2 linked regions of the Homo sapiens genome follow. The protein of the gene in region 1 interacts with the protein of each later gene in a pairwise test. Each region holds a gene or a part of one and is shown on either strand. Other genes may lie near its edges.

What was found. The genes of interacting proteins can lie anywhere in the genome.
Region 2: the proteins of MAST1 (region 1) and ELAVL3 interact in a two-hybrid assay, tested with the Homo sapiens proteins (one study listed by BioGRID and IntAct).

The regions. Positions count from the first base shown.
Region 1 is NC_000019.10:12,841,506-12,849,303, reverse strand, and holds part of MAST1 (microtubule-associated serine/threonine-protein kinase 1), read right to left. Parts: intron 5,776-7,798; coding exon 5,697-5,775; intron 2,015-5,696; coding exon 1,854-2,014; intron 1,693-1,853; coding exon 1,617-1,692; intron 1,457-1,616; coding exon 1,247-1,456; intron 1-1,246. UniProt on the Homo sapiens protein: Microtubule-associated protein essential for correct brain development. Appears to link the dystrophin/utrophin network with microtubule filaments via the syntrophins. Phosphorylation of DMD or UTRN may modulate their affinities for associated proteins.
Region 2 is NC_000019.10:11,450,826-11,457,046, forward strand, and holds the end of ELAVL3 (ELAV-like protein 3), read right to left. Parts: intron 4,053-6,221; coding exon 3,701-4,052; 3' UTR 501-3,700; downstream 1-500. UniProt on the Homo sapiens protein: RNA-binding protein that binds to AU-rich element (ARE) sequences of target mRNAs, including VEGF mRNA. May also bind poly-A tracts via RRM 3. May be involved in neuronal differentiation and maintenance.

The DNA.
Region 1 (7,798 bases):
CCTCCCATCTCAGCCTCCTAAGTAGCTAGCTGGGACTACAGGTGCATGCCACTGCAAAGGGACATTCAAGCATCAATTTACCCAACATTTATTGAGTACCTACTGTGTGCTGGGTATTGTTCCAAACAGCAGGGACACAGCAGTGGACAGAACAGACAACTCCACCCCCCCACCCTCACCAACTATGGGGCTGACATTGGAGAAGGATAGACATGAAATAAAATAAGCAAAAATACACAGTATGATGGATGGTGCTGAGTGTCAAGGAGAAACTGAGGAGAAAGTGGGTGATAAATGTGAGTAGAGTTTAATATTTTATTTTATTTCATTTATTTATTTATTTTTGAGACAGAGTTTCACTCTTGTTGCTCAGACTGGAGTGCAATGGTGTGATCTCGGCTCACCGCAACCTCCGACTCCCAGGTTCAAGCGATTCTCCCGCCTCTGCCTCCCAAGTAGTTGGGATTACAGGCGCCCACCACCACGCCCAGCTAATTTTTGTATTTTTAGTAGAGACGGGGTTTCGCCATGTTGGCCAGGCTGGTCTCGAACTCCTGACCTCAGGTGATCCACTTGCCTCAGCCTCCCAGAGTGCTGGGATTACAGGCCTGAGCCACCGCACCCGGCTAAGTTTAATATTTTATTTTATTTTATTTTATTTACTATTATTATTTTTTGAGACGGAGTCTCGCTCTGTCGCCCAGGCTGGAGTACAGCGGCGCAATCTCGGCTCACTGCAAGCTCCGCCTCCCGGGTTTACGCCATTCTCCTGCCTCAGCCTCCCGAGTAGCTGGGACTACAGGCGTCCGCCACCACGCCCGGCTAATTTTGTGTGTGTGTGTGTTTTTAGTAGAGACGGGGTGTCACCGTGTTAGCCAGGATGGTCTCGATCTCTTGACCTCGTGATCCGCCCCCCTCGGCCTCCCAAAGTGCTGGGATTACAGGCCTGAGCCACCGAGCCCGGCCGAGTTTAATATTTTAAATGACTGGGGACCGCCTAAGAAGCCACCTGAAAAGGTGACATTTGAGTAAAGACCTAAGGGAAATGAGCGAGGTGAAATTCCTGCCTCTTCAGTCGGTCAGACCTAGGGAAGGGACCACTTCCACCCCTGAGTCCTCAGCTCCACGCCAGTGCCTGGAACGTGGTAGGAGCTCCCTGAATGTATGTGGGGTGAAGAAAGGGGTGCATTGGGCACAATCTGGCGGTGCTGAGCCTGAGATCAGCCCGGCCTCCGCGTGCACTCACGTCTTGAAGGAGCTTCTCCAGGTTCTCCTGCAATTCATAGAAGTAGACCGTGGTGATGAGGCCGTCACGGGACTTGGTCAGGCAGTCCCGGGCCAGCTCGATGATCTGGTGGTGGATGAAGCTGAGCACGCCATCGGCCAGAGGCAGAACGCTGTCGGGTTCGTAGGCGCGGGTAAAGTCGCGCAGCTTCTCCTCCATCTGCGCAGTGGCCTGCGGGAGGGACGGAGGAGGGGCGCGGGGCTGTGCCCGAAGGCTGCGGCCGCCAGGAGCCTGCGCTGCGCACCGAGGCCGCCAGGGGGCGCGCGGGGATAAGGCGAGCGAGAGTGCAGGCCGCCTGGTCACCCCGTGACCGCCTCGGGTCCCACCTCACCTTCGGGAACCTCTCCTTGTAGACGTGATTCATCATCACGATCTCGTTGTCGTAGGAGGAGGGGGAGCGCCCGGGGCTGCGGGGAGAGAAGCCCATTTTGTCGAGTCCTCTGCCTCCAAGCCCGCAGAGAGCCCCCGCCCCAAGATGTAACCCTTTTATTCGCGGGGACAGGGGTCTCTCTAAGCACAAGTCCTAAGACCACTAGCTTGGTACGAAGGAGGAGGGATGCCTGCCCACCTGAGGCTCCGTGAGCGGGGCCGCACGGCTGGGGAGCGACGGCCACCATCCTCGTCTGTGATGCTCTCGGTGCTCCCGAAGTGTTTGGAGAGGAAGTGGAGCTCGTCCACCGTGGGCTGGTAGGGCAGCTGGTGAAGGCGCTCCTGGGAGGAGCAGGAGGACTGGGGACAGGGGCAGGGCCGGGGTCAGAGCCACCATGGGCCCCCCAACAGCTCAGGACCCTGAGCTGGGACTCCCAAAGCCGATGGGGTCACTGGGCAAGGCCAGGATCAGGACCTGATTTACGATCCTTGGATCCTAGGATCTTGGCTGGGACTCTTGGCCACAGACAGGTGGACAGGGACAGACAGGGGTGGAGACAGTGAGTCTGTTAAAGCTTGGGTCAAGTCATGAGCCTCCTCTGTTCAGAACCCTTGGTGGCTCCCACCTTACTCAGGGTGAACACCCAAGTCCTTCCCCAGTTATACAAGGTCCTGCCTCATCCTGCCCTGGGTCCCTGCCGTGGATTTTTCTCACTCTCCTGCTTACTTCCTCTGCTCCAGCTACAGTGGCCTTCTTTTTTTTTTTTTTTTTTTTTTTTGAGATGGAGTTTCGTTCTTGTTGCCTAGTTTGGAGTGTGATCTCAGCTCACTGCAACCTCCGCCTCCCGCGTTCAAGCGATTCTCCTGACTCAGCCTCCTAAGTAGCTGGGATTACAGGTGCCTGTCACCACGCCTGGCTAATTTTTTGTATTTTTAGTAGAGACAGTGTTTTACCATGTTGGCCAGGCTGGTCTTGAACTCCTGACATCAGGTGATCCACCTGCCTCTGCCTCCCAAAGTGCTGAGATTACAGGCACAAGCCACCGCACCCAGCCTAGTGGCCTCCTTGATGGTCCTTGGACAAGCCAGGCAAGCTCCTTCCTCAGGGCCTTTGCATTAGCTATTCTTTCTGCTTGGAACACATCTACTATGGATCCCTCCTTCTCATCCTTCAAATTTTTGCTTCAATGTCACCCCTCGGGAAGACCTCCTCTGAATACACACCCATTATTCCCTATCCCTACTCTATCTTGTTTCCTCTTGCTTTATTATCATTATTATTTTAGAGAAGGGTCTCCACTGAATATGGTGACTCACACCTGTAATCTCAGCACTTTGGGAGGCGAAGGCGGGAGGATCATTTGAGCCCAGGAGTTTGAGACCAGCCTGGGCAACATAGTGAAACTGTGTCTCTATTTATTAAAATTATTTAAAGTTAAAAAGAGAGAGAGACACGGTCTCCTTGTGTCACCCAGGCTAGAGGGATGTAGTACAATCATGGCTCACGGAAGCCTTGAACTCCTGGGCTAAAGTAATCTTCCCCCCTCTGCCTTCTGTGTAGCTGGGACTACACCATGCTTGGCTAATTCTTTTTTGCAGAGACAGGGTCTCTCTATGTTGCCCAGGCTGGCTTCCAACTCCTGGCTTCAAGCAATACTCCCACTTTGGCCTCTCAAAGTTCTGGGACTGAGGGCAGGGCTCGGTGGCTCACGCCTGTAATCCCAGCACTTTGGGAGGCTGAGGCGGGCAGAAAAACTGAGGTCAGGAGTTCTAGACCAGCCTGGCCAACAGGGTGAAACCCCGTCTCTACTAAAAATATAAAAAAATTAGCCAGGCATGGTGGTGGGCACCTGTAATCCCAGCTACTCGGGAGGCTGAGGCAGGAGAATTGCTTGAACCCAGGAGATGGAGGTTGCAGTGAGCCGGCACGGTGCCATTGCACTCCAGGCCTGGGCGACAGAGTGAGACTCCATCTCAAAAAAAAAAAAAAAAAAAAATTGCTGGGTCACAGGCATGAGCCACTATGCCTGGCTCTCCTCTTGCTTTATTTTATTTTTTTTTATTTCGAGACAGGGTGTTTCTCTCTCCCCCAGGCTGGAGTGCAGTGGCTCGACCTCCACTCACTGCAACCCCCACCTCCTGGGCTCGAGCAATCTTTCCATCTCAGCCTCCTGAGTAGCTGGGACTTCAGGCACAAGCCATCACACCTGGCTAATTTTTTTTTTTTTTTTTTTTTTTGTAGAAACAGGGTTTCATCACGTTGCTCAGGTTGGTCTCAAACTCCTGGGCTCAAGCAATCCTCCCACCTCAACCTCCCGTAGTGTTGGGAATACAGGTGTGAGCCACCATGCCTGGTCATATAGCTTTCACCCAGGCTGGAGTGCAGTGGTGCAGTCTTGGCTCACTGCAACCTCCAGTTCTCAGGTTCAAGCAATTCTCCCTGCCTCAGCCTCCTGAGTAGCTGGGATTACAGGCATCCATGACCACGCCTGGCTCATTTTTGTATTTTTACTAGAGACAGGGTTTCACCATGTTGGCCAGGCTGGTCTCGAACTCCTGACCTCAAATGATCCACCCGCTTCAGCCTCCCAAAATGCTAGGATTATAGGCATGAGCCACCGCGCCCGGCCAGAATGATATTTTTAAACATCACATTGCTCACTCCTCTGGTTAAAATTCCCCACCCCATCCATCTCTTTTATTTTTTTAATTAGTGTGCATTATCTATAGCCTACATAATCACAATTTCAAATGGTTCAAACTGAAATTTTAGTACAATTTAATATAAAGAAATAAAACCATTCCATGGCTTCCCCACTGGATTTAGAATAAAATCTCCCTTGCTGCCCTGGCTGACAAGGTTCCAGCCTGATCAAGGTCACTGCCTGCATCATCTCTATTCCTCCCCCGCATCCCAAATTTTCAGCCCCACAAAGCTACTTTCAACTTTTCAAATGCTGCAAGTTCTGTGGCCTCTAGAGGTTTGCACATGCTCTTCCCCTTCCTGGAACACTCTTCTCCCTTCTCTTCCATCTGCCAAACTCCTGCTGGTCTGTTGTCTTGGTTTCAATGTCACCTCCTCCAGGAAGCCTTCCTTGACAACCCCCCAATCTGAGTCACATGCCTCTCCCCTATCACCTCACCTTGTGCTACTTGCATCAAAGTTCTGACCATTCTATTTTGTGAATGCCTTCTTACTGGCTTGTCTTCCCCCATGAGGGCTGCGTGAATATTTACACTCTGGCCCAGCTTGCAGAACCCGCCTACCACATGACAATCTCATGACAAATGTCTGCTGAACATCATGCCAATGGCTGGATAAGGGAACTATGGGCATGGATAGAAAAGGGAGCAGATGAAGGGACTTTGGGTGTTCCAAGGGGTGAGCAAGTGGGCTCTGGGTGAAAGCTGTGGCCTGGCCCAGCCCAGCTGCTGATATCAGAGTAAATGGCTTAACTCACAGAGCCTTATGTCACCAGCTGTAAATGAGTGAGTCAGAAATGAGTAGGAAGGACCCTCCCAGAAATGTGTTGAGGGCAGAGCATTGGGCTCTGAGTGGGGCGGACCCATAACTCTTTAATAGATGGACAAGTGAACACCTTTGAAGAATGGGGAAACCCAAACTGTCTTTTTTTGCTTTTTTCTTTTGAGACAGGGTCTCACTCTGTCATCCAGACTGGAATGCTGCAGTGCGATCTCAGCTCAACTGTAGCCTATACCTCCCAGACTCCAGCGATCCTCCCGTCTCAGCCTCCCAAATAGTGGGGACCACAGGTGTGCACCACCACGCCCAGATAATTTTTAATTTTTTGTAGGGACAAGGGTCTCCCTATGTTGCCCAGACTGGTCTTGAACTCCTAGGCTCAAGCAATCCTTCTGTCTTGGCCTCCCAAAGTACTGGGATTACAGGCTTGAGTCACTGAGCCTGGCCCTAAACTGTCATCAAGCCCAGCCTGGACTGCTGGCCTGGGTGTGGGTCTTCAGGCTGGAGGGCCCCTGAATTCCTTACCCACCGGCCCACCCACCTACTTTCCACACTCACCGAGACGGTGGAACTGGGCGTGTTGGTGCCATAGCCAGATGAAGGGAGCGAGGCCAGAGACCACCGGCGTCCGTCCGCCCTGGAACCCAGCCAAGGTGCTCAGAGGCCACAAGGCCCCAGCGGTCCCCCAACTCCTCAGGGTGTGGGTGAAGCCACTGGCCAGGGCCAGGGTGGGGGTTGGGGGAATATATCTGCACTCTAAGATTCCTCAAGGCCCTCAGAATCAAGGGGATAAAGAGGGACTCTTCCAGGCAGGCACCGGGAATTGGAGGGAGGATCCGTCTCCACTCTCCTCCCCACGGTCCCCTCTCTTATCATTCAGAGTGGACACCGAGAACTGGAAAAGCCCCCACCCAGTGAAGCCTTTCCAGAGAGATTCTAGAAATTTCCCCCAAGTGAACACTCTCCATGAGAAAGCTCTGAGGGAGACCCTTGGATCTTCTCAGAGAAAAAAGACCCGTCCCACCCCCCAACATGTTCTGACATAGAATATTGTGTCCTTATGCTCTCGTGCACACAGACACAGTCACTGTTGCAGCCAAATCCATTAATGTTGGTGTGACTATCAGGTCAGGCTCACATACTGGCAGTGCACACATTTACACTTCACACACACGAAGACACACACTCACACATGACTCCTCAACACAGACACCCACACGTATTGACTATCCCATCCATGGACCCAAATATCACACTCTCACACACTAATGCACAATCACGCGTGCAAGACCAGACATGCACTCACCTATAGACACATGTGCTTCCACTCAGTACTCACACTCGGACACACAGACTCACCCAAACATACTCCACACTTCCACATTCACACAGATGCACGTTCCAGACACCCACGCTCACTACCACACATTGAAACTTGCACACAGCGACACACTCATTCACACTCGCACGCAGATGCACACACACAGGGACACACATCGGCGCGTGCTCATGTGAGTGCACAACACACATTAGCATGTGCATGTGTAAGCGTGTGGCTGTGAGACAGTAAACTGGACGGGCGCGGTGGCTCATGCCTGTAATCCTAGCATTTTGGGAGGCCGAGGCGGGTGGATCACCTGAGGTCAGAAGTTCGAGACCAGCATGACCAACCTGGTGAAACCCCATCTCTACTAAAAATACAAAAATTAGCCGGGCGTGGTGGCAGGCGCCTGTAATCCCAGCTACTTGGGAAGCTGAGGCAGGAGAATCGCTTGAACCCAGAAGGCGGAAATTGCAGTGAGCCGAGATCCCGCCATTGCACTCCAGCCTGGGCAACAGAGCGAGACTCTGTCTCAAGAAAAGAAAAAAAAAAGAGAGAGAGAGAGAGAGACAGTAAACACTGTGACTCTGTGTTTACTATCTCACAGCCACACACTCACACACGCTTACACCCACACACAGATTGCACGCTCACCTGGAGACATACCTGACTTGCTCCTCTCACATATTCACAGACACTTACAATCCTACAGACACATGTTCACACGTTCACATTCGCAGACTCGTGCCATTGCATAGGCACGTAATCCCTCACACAGTGACAATCACACACACACACCAGCACACTTTGCACAGTTACAAGGACACACACACACCCCATTTATTGGACTCCTCCCTTCCTTCTTCCTCCCAGCAGTCCCCTCGCTCAGTCCTCCCCGCTTGCGGATAAACATGTGAGACCCTATCCCAGAGCCTTGTCCTGGCTCTCTATTGCCCTCAGCTAAATTCCATGGTCAATAGGCGGTTCCCCCACTTTCCCAAGGGAGCTGTCTGTCTTCACAGTCTCCTTTGACTCTCACAACACAGCCTTCATCAGCCTTTGCACTGATCCCCATTCTCTGGCCTGCCTGCCCTATTCGACTCAGAGGGTAGAGACAGGACGTCATTGACCCCATACGCCCAGCTCCTAAGAACATAGCAGGTGTTTAGACACCATTTTTAGAATGAATAGAGTTCAAAGAAAAAGAGACAGGCCCAAACTCCCAGAAACGTTTCTCCAGAAAACATCAGAGAAACCTCTCTGCCTCCCCCAGTTTCACCAAAGGCCCATAGAAAATTCATTTAAGGACACCCCAGAAACCCTAAGAGACCCTTGGAAA
Region 2 (6,221 bases), 1.4 Mb from region 1:
AAAGGAGCTTGCCCTCCCTGGGCCCCCCACCTTGGTGACTCGCCCCACCACCCCCAGCCCTGTCCCTGCCACCCCTCCTAGTGGGGACTAGTGAATGACTTGACCTGTGACCTCAATACAATAAATGTGATCCCCCACCCAAACTTGTCTGTGTCTGCCTCGCTTTGCTGGGGTGTGGACCGGGGTGTGGGCAGGGGTTGAGCGCAGGGGACGCAGCTTTCTGCAGATCCCACCCGGGCCTCCCCCACCATCTGGGGATCACTCCTGAAGATACCAGGTGGATGGACCCTGGACCATTTCTGTCTTGAGCATCCATCCGGGCCCGTGTCCCACCTTCCCTGGGTCTCATCTGTGCTCTGTGGAGGCCAAGGGTTCCCTCCCGGGGCCAAAGCCCCTGCTGCAGACAGACCCAGGCCCAGAGAAGGACGGGGGCCTGGGCGCTACTACACAGGCTGCTCCTGCGTGCTCCCCGCGCAGCGGTGCAGAGATCACCCAAGGCCTTAAGATTCTGAACTTTTATTTTCTGGCATGAAAAGTACAAATAATTAAACAATTCCATGTAAAAGTCTGTTACCGCGGCCAGGCCTGTGATCCCGGTAATAAATAGTCTAAACGCAACGCGAAGTGTTCTTGTTGGGTTTTTTTTTTTTTTTTGTCTTTTGTTTTGTCTTTTTTTTTTTTTTTTTTTTTACAGTTTTTTATCACCTCCAACATGGACTCTGTCGTGATTTGAAACCTTCCGAATAAATAACAGGATGAAGGGAGGGGTGGAGGGGCTGAGCCCCCTCCCCCCTGGCCTGGCCCCTGCCCCCCAGGGACGTGGAAGCCCCAAGTCCCCCTCGCCTGGGAGCCCCGGCCTGGCCCCCTGCGGGGAGGGGCTGGCCTCCAGGGAGGGGGCCTGGCTGGGCTGAGTTTTGTGTTTTAGAAAAAGAAGTCCCCTCCCAGTCTTGGGGGTGGCAGGGGCCTAGGCCTCGGTGGGGGGGGGGTGTGTGGGGAGGTGCCCCCTCTCTGGAGCCTGGCCCCCCCCAGGGTGGGGGACAAACCCAGCCCTTATTGCTCGGACGCCCTGCTGCAAGCTTCCCACGCGGACGTGCGTGTTCCCGAATGCAGAGGGCGGAGGGGAGAGAGCCCCAAGAGACAGCAGGGGAGAGGGGTCCCTGCCCTGCTGCAGGGGAGAGGAGAGAGGGCAGGGAGGACTTAAAACCACGAGAATAAATAGGTTCGTGTATCAAGAACAAGCTAGGGATTTCACCAGCTAAATAGGACTGAAAAAATTCTCAAGACAAGAGCAAAAAGAATCCCATTGGTGACCTGGACGTCGCTGGCCGTGGGGACTGTCCCGCAGAGCACACGCCCCCGCGTGCCACTCGGCTACCATTACTGTTATTAATAATTATTATTACTTTAATGATTCCACTTCCCCTTTTATAAATAAATTAGGCATAACCATGTCTCGGCAAAACTTAAAGAAACAAAGAGAACATTGTCGTTCCTTTAACTTGCAAACCGGATGAAGTAACAGAAATATACACGGATGTCCTTACAGGGCAACGAGGAGAATAAATAGTTAACATAGCAATAAGTTAAAACTACAAGAAGCTAAATTCAGCAAAAAAGTACAAGAAAGTTAACTGGTGCCAGTTTATGTCTTTTTTTTTTTTCCTTTTTTTTTTTTAAATCTCTTCTGTGTGTTTTCTTTTTTTGTTGCTTTTTTTTCCTCTTCTGTTTGTGTTTTTTTGTCGCTTTTTTGATTTTTTTCTTTTTTGTTCCTTGCAGCAGAAGCTCCACAGACGTTTAATAACAACACCGGGAGGGGTGGGGGAGAGAGAGCTGGACAGTCAGATGGGGGCGCCATAGCCAGACACCAAACGTGGGGACACCGGGGGAAGGCAACTTAACTATAGCTAAAGTCGGGGGTTTTGCAATTCTCAGTTCCGATGGGGCCGCTGAGTGGGGTGGGGAGCGGTGCGAGGGCTCCCAGGGGCTCCGGCCTGTGGCTTCTGTTGGAATTTTTTTTTTTTAAAGAAAGAAAACTAGGGCGATGCAATGTCCAGACAGAAGCCGGGGGCCGGGGCTCGAGATCGGGGGCTGTGTCCACTGCAATCTGGAAAGACGAAAAACCCAACAAACCGAAAGGGGATAGGTAGGTGACAAGTGGACGGGAAAGGAGTGTGGGGCTGGGCCTTTGGGCCCATCCACCCCACCCTGGGCCTGGCGGGGAGTGCCGGGGTCTTGCTGCCGGGGAGGCCCAGTCCTGGTGGGGGAGGCTCAGGGCTGGGCCTCTCCCTCAGCTGTGTGGGCCAAGGCCTCGGCCCAGGGGGAGGCTGAGCCCCGGGGACAGGGGTGTCCTTTGGCCTCAAGTGTTGTGGGGGGGGGGGCTGCCTCCAGCCCACCGTGACGCCAAGGTGGAACGAGGTATCGTGTGTCTCAATGCATGTGCGCTGCGTGTGCACGCCTGTGTTCGTGGGCGCCAAGGAGACCGCTGGGGGTCCAGGAGAGATCTCTGCAGAGAACCTGGGGGCCAGGGCGAGGGGGCCGAGAGGGTGAGGGAGCGTCTGGGGCAGGGTCTGGGGTGGGACCTCCTGCCTGGGCCTGTGGGATGCTATGGGCATATGTCTGCGTGTTCCTGGGTGGTGTTTGTGTTTCTCCGTGACCTGGTGTCCAAATTTGATGTCCAAATATCTATCGCTACATTCACGTGTGCACGTGGACAGGTGGATGGATTCGTGTGCCCACATCTGTGGTCTGTGTCCACATGGACGTAGCCCCAGCTTCTGTCTCTTTCTGTCTATCCCTGTCCACGTGTCTGAGTTTGGCCAACCAGTCCCTTAACGTGTCTGGGGCATGTCGCTGTGTCCGTCTGCGTCTGTCCGTGTGTCCCCGTGGTGTGACTGTCTGCGTGGTTGTTTCTCTGTGTGGCCCCGTGGGCTGCTAGCCCCTAAGCCCTGCTCCCTGGGCCCCCCCCACCCCCGCCCCAGTTGGTAAACATAACCTGCCAAAATATTTTCTTTTTTTTTTTTTGTCTTTTTTTGTGTTTTTTTTTTTCAAGTTCAAGAATCCCCAGTAAAAATTCTCCACGAGGTCTTTTTCCCTTTTTACAAAAATAGAGTTTTTCTTCCCCTCCCACCCCCCTTTTTTTTTCATTTTGTTTCTGCTTCCAGCCCCACTGCCTGCTCCCCCGCATTCCACCAGGGGGCACTGGGCCGGGGGTGCCCACACCCCTCCTCACGGTTCGCTTTTTTGGGGATTTTTAAACCTGTTCCTCCTACCCCAGGCCCCACCTAGGTGCTGGGGAGGCCTGGGCAAGGGGGTCTGGGAGGGCACCCCCTGGAGCCCCCCAAGCCATCCCATCGGGGGTGGTCGAGGGTGGGGGTGGGGGCACATCTCTGCATTCTTTTTAGCCGAAAAAAGAAACAAAAACCTTCACCATGAACCAAACCAAGACGAGAGAGTGAACAGCCCAGCCTGGGGTGGGGGCAGGAGGATGGGGCGGGGGATCCCCGGGCACCCCCCCAATTCCCTGCAGACCCTCCCACCCCAGAGTGCTCACCCTGTGGCTTCCGCAGGGACGTGGGGCCCTCGCGTCGTCCGTGGGGCTGCCTGTGCTGTCTCTCTTGGGCCCCTTCTCTCTCTCTCTCTCTCTTTCTCTCTCTCTCTCTCTGCTGCCCGGGGAGGGGGTGGGAGGGCAGGCGGGGTGGGCTCACGCCTTGTGCTGTTTGCTGGTCTTGAAGGAGACCTGCAGCACGCGCTCGCCCAGGCGATAGCCGTTCAGGCTGGCGATGGCCATGGCCGCCTCGTCATAGTTGGTCATGGTCACGAAGCCGAAACCCTTGCACTTGTTGGTGGTGAAATCACGGATGACCTTGACGTTGGTGACTGCCCCAAAAGGCCCGAACAGCTGCCACAGCACGCTCTCGTCTGCCTCCGGTGACAGGTTGTACACGAAGATGCACCAGCCGGCGCCCGCCGCGCCCCCCGACAGGCCCACGCCCGCCAGGCCGCTCATACCATCGATGGCGATCGGCGAGAACCTGGCGATGAGCGACAGGGGACTACTTTGGGGGTCACGCGGGCTCTGCCCTGACCCCCCGCATGCTTCTGACCCCGTTGTGACCCTTCACACCTTTATGACCCCTGACTGTGCCATGACCTTGGAATGGTGTGACCCCTGCAATGCAATTTTTTTTTTTAGAGACACGGTCTCGCTCTGTCACCCAGGCTGGAGTGCAGTGGTGCAATCATGGCTCACTGCAGCTTTGACCTCCTGGGCTCAAGCAAACCTCCCGCCTCAGCCTCCTGAGCAGCTGGGACTGTAGGCAGGCGCCCTCACACCCAGCTAATTTTTTTTATGATTTGTGGTGACACAGTCTCACTATGTTGCTTAGGCTGGTCTCGAACTCTCAGGCTCAAGCAATCCTCCTGCCTTGGCTTCCCAAGTAGCTGGGACTACAGGTGCACCACTATGCCCCACTAATTTTTTTTTTTTTTTTTCTGAGACGGGGTCTTGCTCTGTTGCCCAGGCTGGAGTGCAGTGGGATGATCTCAGCTCACTGCAACCTCTGCCTCCTAGGTTCAAGCGATTGTCCTGCCTCAGCCTCCCGAGTAGCACCTGCCACCACGCCCAGCTAATTTTGTATTTTTAATAGAGATGGGGTTTCTCCATGTTGATCAGGCTGGTCTCGAACTCCCGACCTCAGGTGATCCGCCCGCTTCGACCTCCCAAAGTGCTGGGATTACAGGCATGAGCCACCGCACCCAGCCATGCCCCGCTAATTTTTAAAAATTTTTGTAGAGGTGGGGTCTCGCTGCGTTAGCCAGGCTGGTCTCGAACTCCTGGGCTCAAGCAATCCTACCACCTTGGAGTTCCAAAGTGCTGAAATTACAGGTGTGAGCCACTGCACCCGGCTTTCCTTTTCAAATCATATATTTATTATCATCAACTTCATCTTCCCTGCAAGAGTTTGTTCCAGCCCCTGAACAACACCTAGTAAGCACTTGGGAGGTGTCTGTTGAATGAATTAATGAAAGGACAGAATTGGCTCCACTCACATTCCTCACTGGCAATCCCGCCCTTGGATTAAACCCCTCAGCTGGGAAGGGAGGACCCAAGGGCCTGAACCATTCAATCCTGACCACGAGGAACAAACTACTCGCTCCTTCTGGCCCTCTTTGCACAGGCTTTTCCCACTGCTAGGAACTCCCTTTCCACTCTGCCTTTGTGTGGATGTTGCCTCAGATGGGACTGGGGGGTCTCTGCTGCTGGGTCTCCGTCACCCCTTCTTTTTTTTTTTTCTTTTTGAGACGGAATCTCACTCTGTCGCCCAGGCTGGAGTGCAGTGGCACGATCTCAGCTCACTGCAACCTCCGCCTCCTGGGTTCAAGCAGTTCTCTGCCTCAGCCTCCCGAGTAGCTGGGATTACAGGCGCCTGCCACCGTGCCCAGCTAAATTTTTGTATTTTTAGTAGAGATGGGGTTTCACCATCTTGGCCAGGCTGGTCTTGGACTCCTGACCTCGTGATCCGCCTGCCTCGGCTTCCCAAAGTGCTGGGATTACAGGCGTGAGCCACCGCGCCCGGCCTCTGTTACCCCTTCTACTTCACAGCTTTCATCACCATTCATTTCTCTGTCTCCTCCCCCACTAGACTCAGACTGAGATCTTCTTTTACATTTTTTAATTATTTTTTTTTTTTTGAGATGGAGTTTCGCTCTTGTTGCCCAGGCTGGAGTGCAGTGGCACGATTTCAGCTCACTGCAACCTCCTCCTTCCATGTTCAAGCGATTCTCCTGCTTCAGCCTCCTGAGTAGCTGGGATTACAGGCATGAGACACCGCGCCCAGCCACATTTTTTAATTTTTGGAGATAAGGTCTCGCTCTGTCACCCAGGCTGGAGTGCAGTGGCACCATCATAGTTCACTGCAGCCTCCAACTCCTAGGCTCAAGCGATCCTCCCGCCTCAGCCTCCTGAGTAGCCTGAACTACAGGCATGCACCACCGTATCAGGCTAATCCTTAAAAAAAAATTGTAGAGAAGGATCTCACTATGTTGCCCAGGCTGATCTTGAACTCCTGGCCTCAAGTGCTCCTTGCCCCTCAGCCTCCCGAAACACTGGGAGCACAGGCGAGAACCACCACGTCTGGCTTTGATGTCACATCTCTCAATGGCCATGCTACTCCAAGACCCAGGCAAACAAGGCTAAGCCTGCAGCCCTGGGGGTGAGCTGG